2 separate regions of the Homo sapiens genome follow, and region 1 is reported to be linked to region 2. Evidence: microRNA targets listed by miRTarBase, many of them from high-throughput screens and not tested one by one. Region 2 holds a microRNA gene; the other region holds the end of a gene's coding sequence.
The links. The annotated mature microRNA hsa-miR-3942-3p reads UUUCAGAUAACAGUAUUACAU and lies in region 2 at 2,265-2,285, shown strand. An mRNA with a match to its seed (bases 2 to 7 or 8) in the 3' UTR can be bound and repressed. Matches are read on the target gene's strand: a 7mer-m8 pairs with bases 2 to 8, a 7mer-A1 pairs with bases 2 to 7 and ends in A, and an 8mer does both.

Region 1 (4,066 bases), not on the chromosome of region 2:
AGCCCAGCCAGGAACCTGAATACCTGCAATGAGCCTTTTCTGTAGAAGCCCTTCTTAAATTTTCTGCAGCTTCCTTTTTTTTACAACAGTGGCCTTTTTTCCTCCAGTTTCCTCAACTAAGTGTCCAAGGCAAATGTGAAGTAGAAAATAAATACGTGAAACCATCTGAGTAAAATTAGCTGAATTTCCCTGACTTCCATATTCTTCCATTATTTCTCTTATCCCCTGCCAGTCACTTTAGCCTGAATTAGCTGTGAGGCAAACTATTTTGCCATTTCTATGTGTGGATCTTCCAGTGTGACTTTATGCAGTCATTGAAATTGTCTTAAGCACAAATGAAACCTCATGGAAATGTTAATTACTGCTCCTACAATTAACCTTCCTCATATATTCAACAAGCAAGGAATTATTGAGAACTAATACCTCTGAGACACTACTCCTTAGTAGGTTTCAAACCAGGAAGGAGGCAAGTTGAATAGAGTCTAAGTTTTATAATCCAGATCAACACAGAGAAGGGTACTGCTCTGGTATTGAGGGTGGGAGTGGTCAGAGAAGGCCTCCTGGAAAGGTTAGGCCTGCTGAATCTTCAAGAACAAGCAGCAGCCCAAGAGGGGAGGTGAGTGAGATGAGCCACCTTCCTATAGGTCTCTCCTCCTTCCATGCCCCCACTCCCCACCCAAACTTTTCACACTGGGGAGAAGTTTCTGACATGAACATCTAACTTGTTTTCTCTCTTCTGTGTTTCAGGGAACAGCGGATGAAAGAGCACCCCTCATTCGAACCTAAACATTGCCTTTGCTTGGTGAAGAAACTGTGTGAGCTGTCCTGACCTGGACGATGACGTGGGGAAACCCTCCACCTCCTTGCAGGCTTGTTGCCTGTTGAAAGAAGGAAAAAGACACGGCGCTGGCAAGTGATAGGAACATTCTGGCCAGAGGTTAAAGAGCAGGCTGACATGGCTGGCCATTAAGCTTTATAAAATCATGTGGGCTCTGAAATTGTTCTTTTATGTGTCTAGCAAGTATTTAATAAACCCTTGTATAGTAATTTTGTTGTTGTTGGGTGCTGGTAGCTCCAGAATTTTGTGACCACTATTGTGGGTAAAATGTCTCTGCATCACTTGTTAATGCTACTGGTCTAACTTCATTCAGTATGCTTCATTCACCGAACTTTGTGCTCAAAATGCGTATATACCATTTTATGTTGTATTCCTCCATTTCACTTGCAAAACAGAAGTAAATAAGAGTTCGGGACCCAGGGTAAAATGGTAGCTTCATCCAATATATCATTCAAATGCATCTGATTTCTAAAACATATTACATTTTATGCTGATCTTCAGTTCATAATTCTTCCAGGAAAACTCAGTCTTCCAACTGCAATAAAATACTGGGTAGAATCAAATGGGAAAGGGGTTGGGTGGGGCAATACCCATGAGTTGATAGTGATAAGCTCCTAAGGATTTTTAACTTGTACTTTTGTGAACGAAGAGAATGCATAAATAATGTTGGTGAGGATAAAGTACAGATATTTCATGTAGAATTAATTGCTAGTTATGATGCTTGTGGATAGTTAACTGTTTTTTTTTTAGTCAAAATGATCATGCTACGAAAAGATGCTTCTGAGAGAATGTAATGAGTAACTGATTTTTCTTCCTGAGTCGCCCTTGCCAAATATGTTACTGTATTAATTAATCTAATATTGAGTGATTATTTGTAAAATTATGAATATGGGAAATCCATCTATCTACAGCCTAAGTTACACATAAGTTTCAGAAAGTCTGATTAGACTAAAGAGATATTTCTTCTGGGACAGCCGCCTTCTTGGTAATTTTGAAGTTCTTTTTACAAGTTCCTTCCTCAGTTTCAGTTCTTTCCAGTGTTTTGTAGCTCACTGTCACTCACTGAATAGAGAAACGTGTGCCCTATACTTCCTGTGACAATCATTTTGCTGACAGAATGATGGATGTTTAAAATATTGCACAAAGTACTTTAAAGAAAGGTCTGTTAGGACCAGAAGCAGAGACACCACTTTTCAAAGGACTTCTTGGTTTCAGCATAACCTAAGACAGGGAATTGGGAGCCATCATATGTCACAGTGTTCAGAATTCAAGCATATTTAAGGGCATTTTCTTTGATTCTCAAAGTTCAGCATTCATTTTGAATTGAGAAGCCTATACATTTAGCTGACAAAGTGCTTATAGAATTTCTTAACAACTGAACCATTCAAAAGGATTTTTTTTGTTTAAAACTGGATTTCAATGTAAGCAAATGAAGAAAAAAATATAGATTTCATTTCCATAGCTTCTTATCCCTGTATTGAGGTAATAAATTGTTTTACTGACAATTTTTCCTTTTTCTACACTAAAACAATATGTGATATATTTCCCCTCTTGAAGAGGCAATTCATTAAACTCTCAAATTTTCTATAGAATCAAGATAGAACCTTTAGATACTCCAACTCACCAAAATGTAAAAAAACTAACAAAAATATTTGGTCTTCAATAATGCTAAATATCTACATTTTTAGAATTTATCAACATTTAACTAGATAATTGGGCATGTCTTAATTATGCATGTACTTATCCATACTAATAAAATTGACAATGCTAGTGCATACTTATTGGTTTAGTCCTATTATCAGGATATAATCATCTGTGAGGAGGATATTTTAAATACTGTAAATGATAACAGTTAATGATATACACATTTAGACTGAGTTGCACACTGGCAGGGAGACCAAAAACATTACTTCCATACTTGTGTCATGATTCTTTTTTTTTTGAGAGAGTCTCACTCTGTCGCCAGGCTGGAGTACAGTGGCATGATCTCGGCTCACTGCAACCTCTGCCTCCCGGGTTCAAGCAATTCTCCTGCCTCAGCCACCCAAGTAGCTGGGACTACAGGTGCGTGCCACCACGCCCAGCTAAATTTTGTATTTTTAGTGGAGACGGGGTTTCACCATGTTGGCCAGGATGGTCTCAATCTCCTGACCCTGCGATCTGCCCACCTCAGCCTCCCAAAGTGCTGGGATTACAGGCGTAAGCCACCGGGCCTGGCCTGTTTTATGATTCTTAATAGTTACTTGGTTTAAATCACATTTGATACTATCCTTCTGAAAAGTCTGAGACAGATCTACAAACTACAGTCAAAATTATAGATTAAGAGGAATGAATGCACCTATTTGGCTTTAAGTTGAAGATGAATTATTTCTCATGCTCATTTTCTTGCGGCAGTTATCTTAGAAAGACCCCCAAAGGCTTTGTGATTGTAAGCACTGTCATGATCACAGAATGCAAGCTTCTGGTACCATGATCCTCAACTTAGAGAGGAAGAAACCAAGACAGAGAGCTTAACTCACTTCTCTCAGGGAAAATTAGGAGTTGAGCACAGGACAGGAAATGGGCTTTGCCACTTTTAGCTCCAGGCTTTTCTAACCAGACTTGATTTCCTCATGTTCTAGAAAGATCACTAATGGTCAAGTGGAACAAGCACTACACGACTAACCCCTATTGGGGTTTTTAACTTAAGGGAGGCTAATTTTTAATTTAAACTGCTCGAGATATGAGTTCTGCAAAAGGTGGTCCGCATCCTTGGCCCTCTGGACATTATCACTAAATTGCTTGTGCCTGTTAACAAGAATACTGACCAGAATGCTCTTCATGTAGCTTATACAGTTGGTTCACTTCATGCGGTTCTTGACATGTTTATTTCTACCCTTAATGCAATGAAATGTTTCATTAATAAAAAACCACTTTATATAAAATTGCTCTAGAAGTCATATGTCATTGGATGTCCTGTTGTTTATGGAGTTTCCCTGGAAAGATGTTCCTTGACAGATGCAGCCCTGAGTCACACACTTGGGCCATGTCTGATTTCAGCTTCGCTGTAGTGGACAGTTACAATCAGCCTGACAAGTTTCACTCCAAGCAGTCCCACATTCTGCTTTTCTGTCTTAAGTCTTTCTCAAGAGCCCTCAAAGCACCATAGGAGTATCAGGGAGTTAATAACCCAAGGCAACCCTCAACTAAATGGGGCAGGAGTCAGTCAGCTGATAGATGTTTCAATCC
Region 2 (4,069 bases):
GTGGGAAGTAAACATTTTGCTTATGAAAGTTTAATAATTTGGAGCCAAATATTTTGAGATTTCTTCTATTGCCACCGAGTAACTTTGCATGATACAAGTCGATTCAAAAATATTTTTACATTAGCGACAAAATGTCAATGTCAGGATTTATTTTACTGTACTACAATGGTCAAAATGCTAACTATTAATATAAACAATAGAAGTACTTCCCAAGGCACTAAAGTGATATGAGGAATTTCTATTTTTAAATTTTCAGTTGAAATTCAAAACATTATTACTCTCTTAATAAACAATAAAAAATAATTCATTATTAGAACTTTACACATAATCTTAGTTATTCAAATGTGCTTTACAGGGTATCTTTGATAAAAGTTGAGTTAATTTACATGTATCCATATGGTGCCAGCATGCAGTTCATACCATTTTACCTGAATGTGGTCATTACTATGTCAGACAATCAATTTTAATAGCAATGATACTGCAGTGTGAAGAGTTCATCTAGAGCTTAAAATCATCACCAGTACTGCTTTTGTGAAGGATAATTGAGATTTTGTGTGAAACATTGAATGAATTACCTCTTGAAAATGAAAAGAATAATGAAGATAAAGCACTAATGTTTAATGCTTAGCCTATACCAAGCAAATACGTGAAAATGAAATTGAACAGGAATTTAAGTCTTAAAATTGTTCAGAGAGCTTTGAGTGAACCTGAAAGTTGAACTCTTATGTTCTTATGAAGATAGAAAGCCTCATTGTTTTTTCTTAAAAGCTTAGTATACTTGAACCTTTTCCCAATTAAATACTGGGTTATTAAAAATATTTATTAATCACTACATGTTGTATACCAATGGAGATAAATATAAAACAAGAATGTTTAGTCTCTTCTAGTCAGTAGGAGGAATGATTTGTCACAATTTTTGTAGCATATAAATGTATTGTAAAATTTTTGTATTTCAGGGATTCATCAGAAGTAGTCATACATTCAGCTGATGCATTTGCACCTGTGGCTTATCTACGCTTTTTAGAATTGCACTTGGAGGACAAGGCAAGTAAATCTAAGATTCACAGTGATTTCAATAGAAATTTGAGATATATACATTGGCTTTGCATATATAATTCTGTAACAACAGATGACAGGAAAAAGAAAATTGATTTTTATCATTAGTGGTTTTTTTTCAGCTCCTCAGTCAATAACTAAGAATTTTACAAATGCTTATAGTTTTGAGTTATATATGATACAAAAGATACTACATTTATGAAAAGTTTGCAGGTCAGTTAAAAAGGGAATAGTATATACATTAAACAATGGGAGGACAATATAAAATCAAATATTAAATCATCTAGCAGGATCACATTTAAGTTACTGTACATAAGCATTAAGGGAAGGGTTTGAGGATAAATTGGATTGTCATTATTCAAAGCTTAAGAGAGGAAAAGGAGAAATAAAACCTTTACAAAAATATCCAGGAAAAGAGAAGTAAAAATGGAAGATGGAAAGTGAAGCAAAATTACAATAAAGAGTTTTATTTTAAATACACTGTCAAGATACAGTAAAATTTTAATTTAAAGATATCTTGTGGAATAAAGTTCTGGATTAGATTCCTTGATTGAGAGGTCTCATCCTTCAGATGTTGCTTTATATTAGTTACCATAAAAATGATAGCTGAAATTATGTGAAGAAATGAGTGTAGTGACAGAAAAGGATTAGAAAATGTCTTCTGTATATTTAGTGTTCTTTCCCCCAAGTCTTGAGGCACACCCACAGTTACATATTTTACATCATAGGAAATCTGAAGGAGTAAGAGGATTAACAAGAATTCGGCAAAAGTAGGAAAAGAGTGGTAATGCCAAAAATCTCAAGATGAGAGGGTTTCTACAGGTGAGGATAATTATAGGTGCCAGTTCTCCAGAAGAATGACAATGGGCAGGATTAAAAATAGGTTGTGGAATTGGGCTGGATGATGACTATTGGTGACCTTTTATCAAAAAGCTGGTAACCCCCACAAGAATTAAGTTACACTATCCAAATGTTTTTCAGATTTACTTGAACCCCTAACTTGTAGTTTTCTGCTACTTTTGCTACCATGTACGCACACACAAAGTCAAAAGCACTGAATTCATGTGTAGGCATTCCAGCCATTCTATGTTCAGCTCTACCCGAATAGCTCACTGTTCACCTCGTTGTTTTGGTATTTGATTGGTCTTCAGTATGACACCTCAAAGAAGCAATACTGTTACCTGAAATAGGCTGCGAAGATAACAGTATTTCAGATAACAGTATTACATCTTTGAAGTGTCATATTCACTGACACTGAATAAATATGGTGCATTTTCCTTCCCTTTCCTTCCCTTTTTTTTTTAGGTGTCCTCAGTGCCTGACAACTACAGAACATCTAATTATATATATAATTTTTGAAAAGTGTTTTGGAACATTGTTCATTAAACCACCATTTCTATACAAAAAAATTGCATAGTATTTTCTCAGTTACTATGACTAGTTTATTTTTTTCTCATGACTCTTATTTTTTTAGAGAAACATACTTTCACTAGAAGAGGTTAGTGGAACCATTTATTAATTGGGAAAATGTCGACGGCATGTTCATTAATAGTGCCAACTTTCTTGGAATTCACTCTTTCTCTTTCGTTAACACATCTTCCCTATGACCTTTTTTTTCTTTTATTTCATCTATAAACCCCATTTCTGTAGCATTTCTTTTTTTATCACACTAGTTTCTTTTCCTCCTTCTCTCTTTCTTGCTCCAATCCCTACCAATAATGTCATGATGCAGAGGCATTTGAAAATGAAGATGAAAAGATGGTCACTTTATTTAGCCAGTCAAGCTTATTCTACTGGGTGTCGCCAAAGCGATTTATCATTTTTATTTTAAATATATTCATGGTTGAAGTGTTTCAACGTTATTGGACAATTAGGAAGAATGTCCTTAACTCTTACAAGTTATTTTATAACTGATTTTTAAAATGCTGTTTTTCAGTATTAACTATGTTGACCTTAGAAAACTTTTACAAAAAATAGACTTTATGTTTTAGAACAGTTTTAGGTTCACAGCAAAAATGGAGCAGAAAATGCAGAGATTTCCCATATACCCTCTACCTCCACACATTCACAGCCTCCCCTACCGTCAATGTCTTATAATAGAGTGGTACATTTGTTACAACTGATGAACCTACATTGACACATTATTATCACCCAAAGTCCATAGTTTACGTGAGGGTTCACTCTTGGTGTTGTACATAATATGGGTTTTGACAAATGTGTAATGACATTTGTCAACCGTTATAGTATTATACAGAATAATTTCACTGCCTTAAAAAATCCTCTGTGTTTTACTTATTCATCCCTCCCTCTCCTTTAACCCTTAGCAACTGATCTTTTCACTGTGTACATAGTTTTGCTTTTACCAGAATGTAATGTAGTTGAAATCATACAGTATATAGCTTTTCATGCAGTATATAGCTTTTCAGATTGGCTTCTTTCATGTATTAATATGCATTTAGGTTTCTCTGTATCTTGTCATGTATATGTAGCTCATTTTTTTTTTAGTGTAGAATAAAATTTTATTGTCTGGTTCTACCACATTTCATTTGTCCATGCACCTATTGAAGAACATCTCAGTTGCTTCCATGTTTTGGCGATTATGAATAAAGCGACTATAAACATCCATGAACAGGTTTTTGTGTGAAGATAAGTTTTTTTCAGGTGTATAAATACCAAGGAGCACAATTACTGGATCATATGGTAAGATTATGTTTAGCTTTGTAAAAAAAACTGCCACACTGTTTTCCAAAGTAGTTGTACTATTTTGTATTCCCACCAACAATGAATGAGAGTTTCTGTTGTTCCACCTCCTGACCAGCATTGAGCATTGTAGGAATTTTGGACTTTTGCCATTCTGGTAGGTCTGAAGTGTTCTCTCATTGTTGTTTTAGTTTGCAACTACCTAAAGATATGTGATGTTGAACATCTTTTCATGTTTGTTTGCCATCTGTGTATCTCCTTTGGTGAGATGTCTCTTCAGATCTTTTGACTATTTTTAATTGGGGTTTTTGTC

Region 1: miRTarBase lists SCARB2 as a target of hsa-miR-3942-3p. Seed matches in the 3' UTR shown: 7mer-A1 at 992-998 and 7mer-A1 at 3,111-3,117.

Annotation. Positions count from the first base shown.
Region 1 is chr4:76,158,433-76,162,498 of GRCh38, reverse strand. SCARB2 (scavenger receptor class B member 2) reads left to right here. Exons shown (of 12, transcript NM_005506.4): 12 at 748-3,762. The coding sequence ends at 786. LOC124900718 (a long non-coding RNA gene) reads right to left here. Exons shown (of 2, transcript XR_007058144.1): 2 at 3,732-4,066. Among named protein-coding and RNA genes, the nearest start is that of NUP54, 12 kb to the right of the region's middle.
Region 2 is chr15:35,370,496-35,374,564 of GRCh38, reverse strand. It overlaps MIR3942 (microRNA 3942), which reads left to right and starts at 2,201; the gene lies at 2,201-2,309. It overlaps DPH6 (diphthamine biosynthesis 6), which reads left to right. Exons shown (of 9, transcript NM_080650.4): 8 at 957-1,044; 9 at 2,362-3,685. The coding sequence ends at 2,415.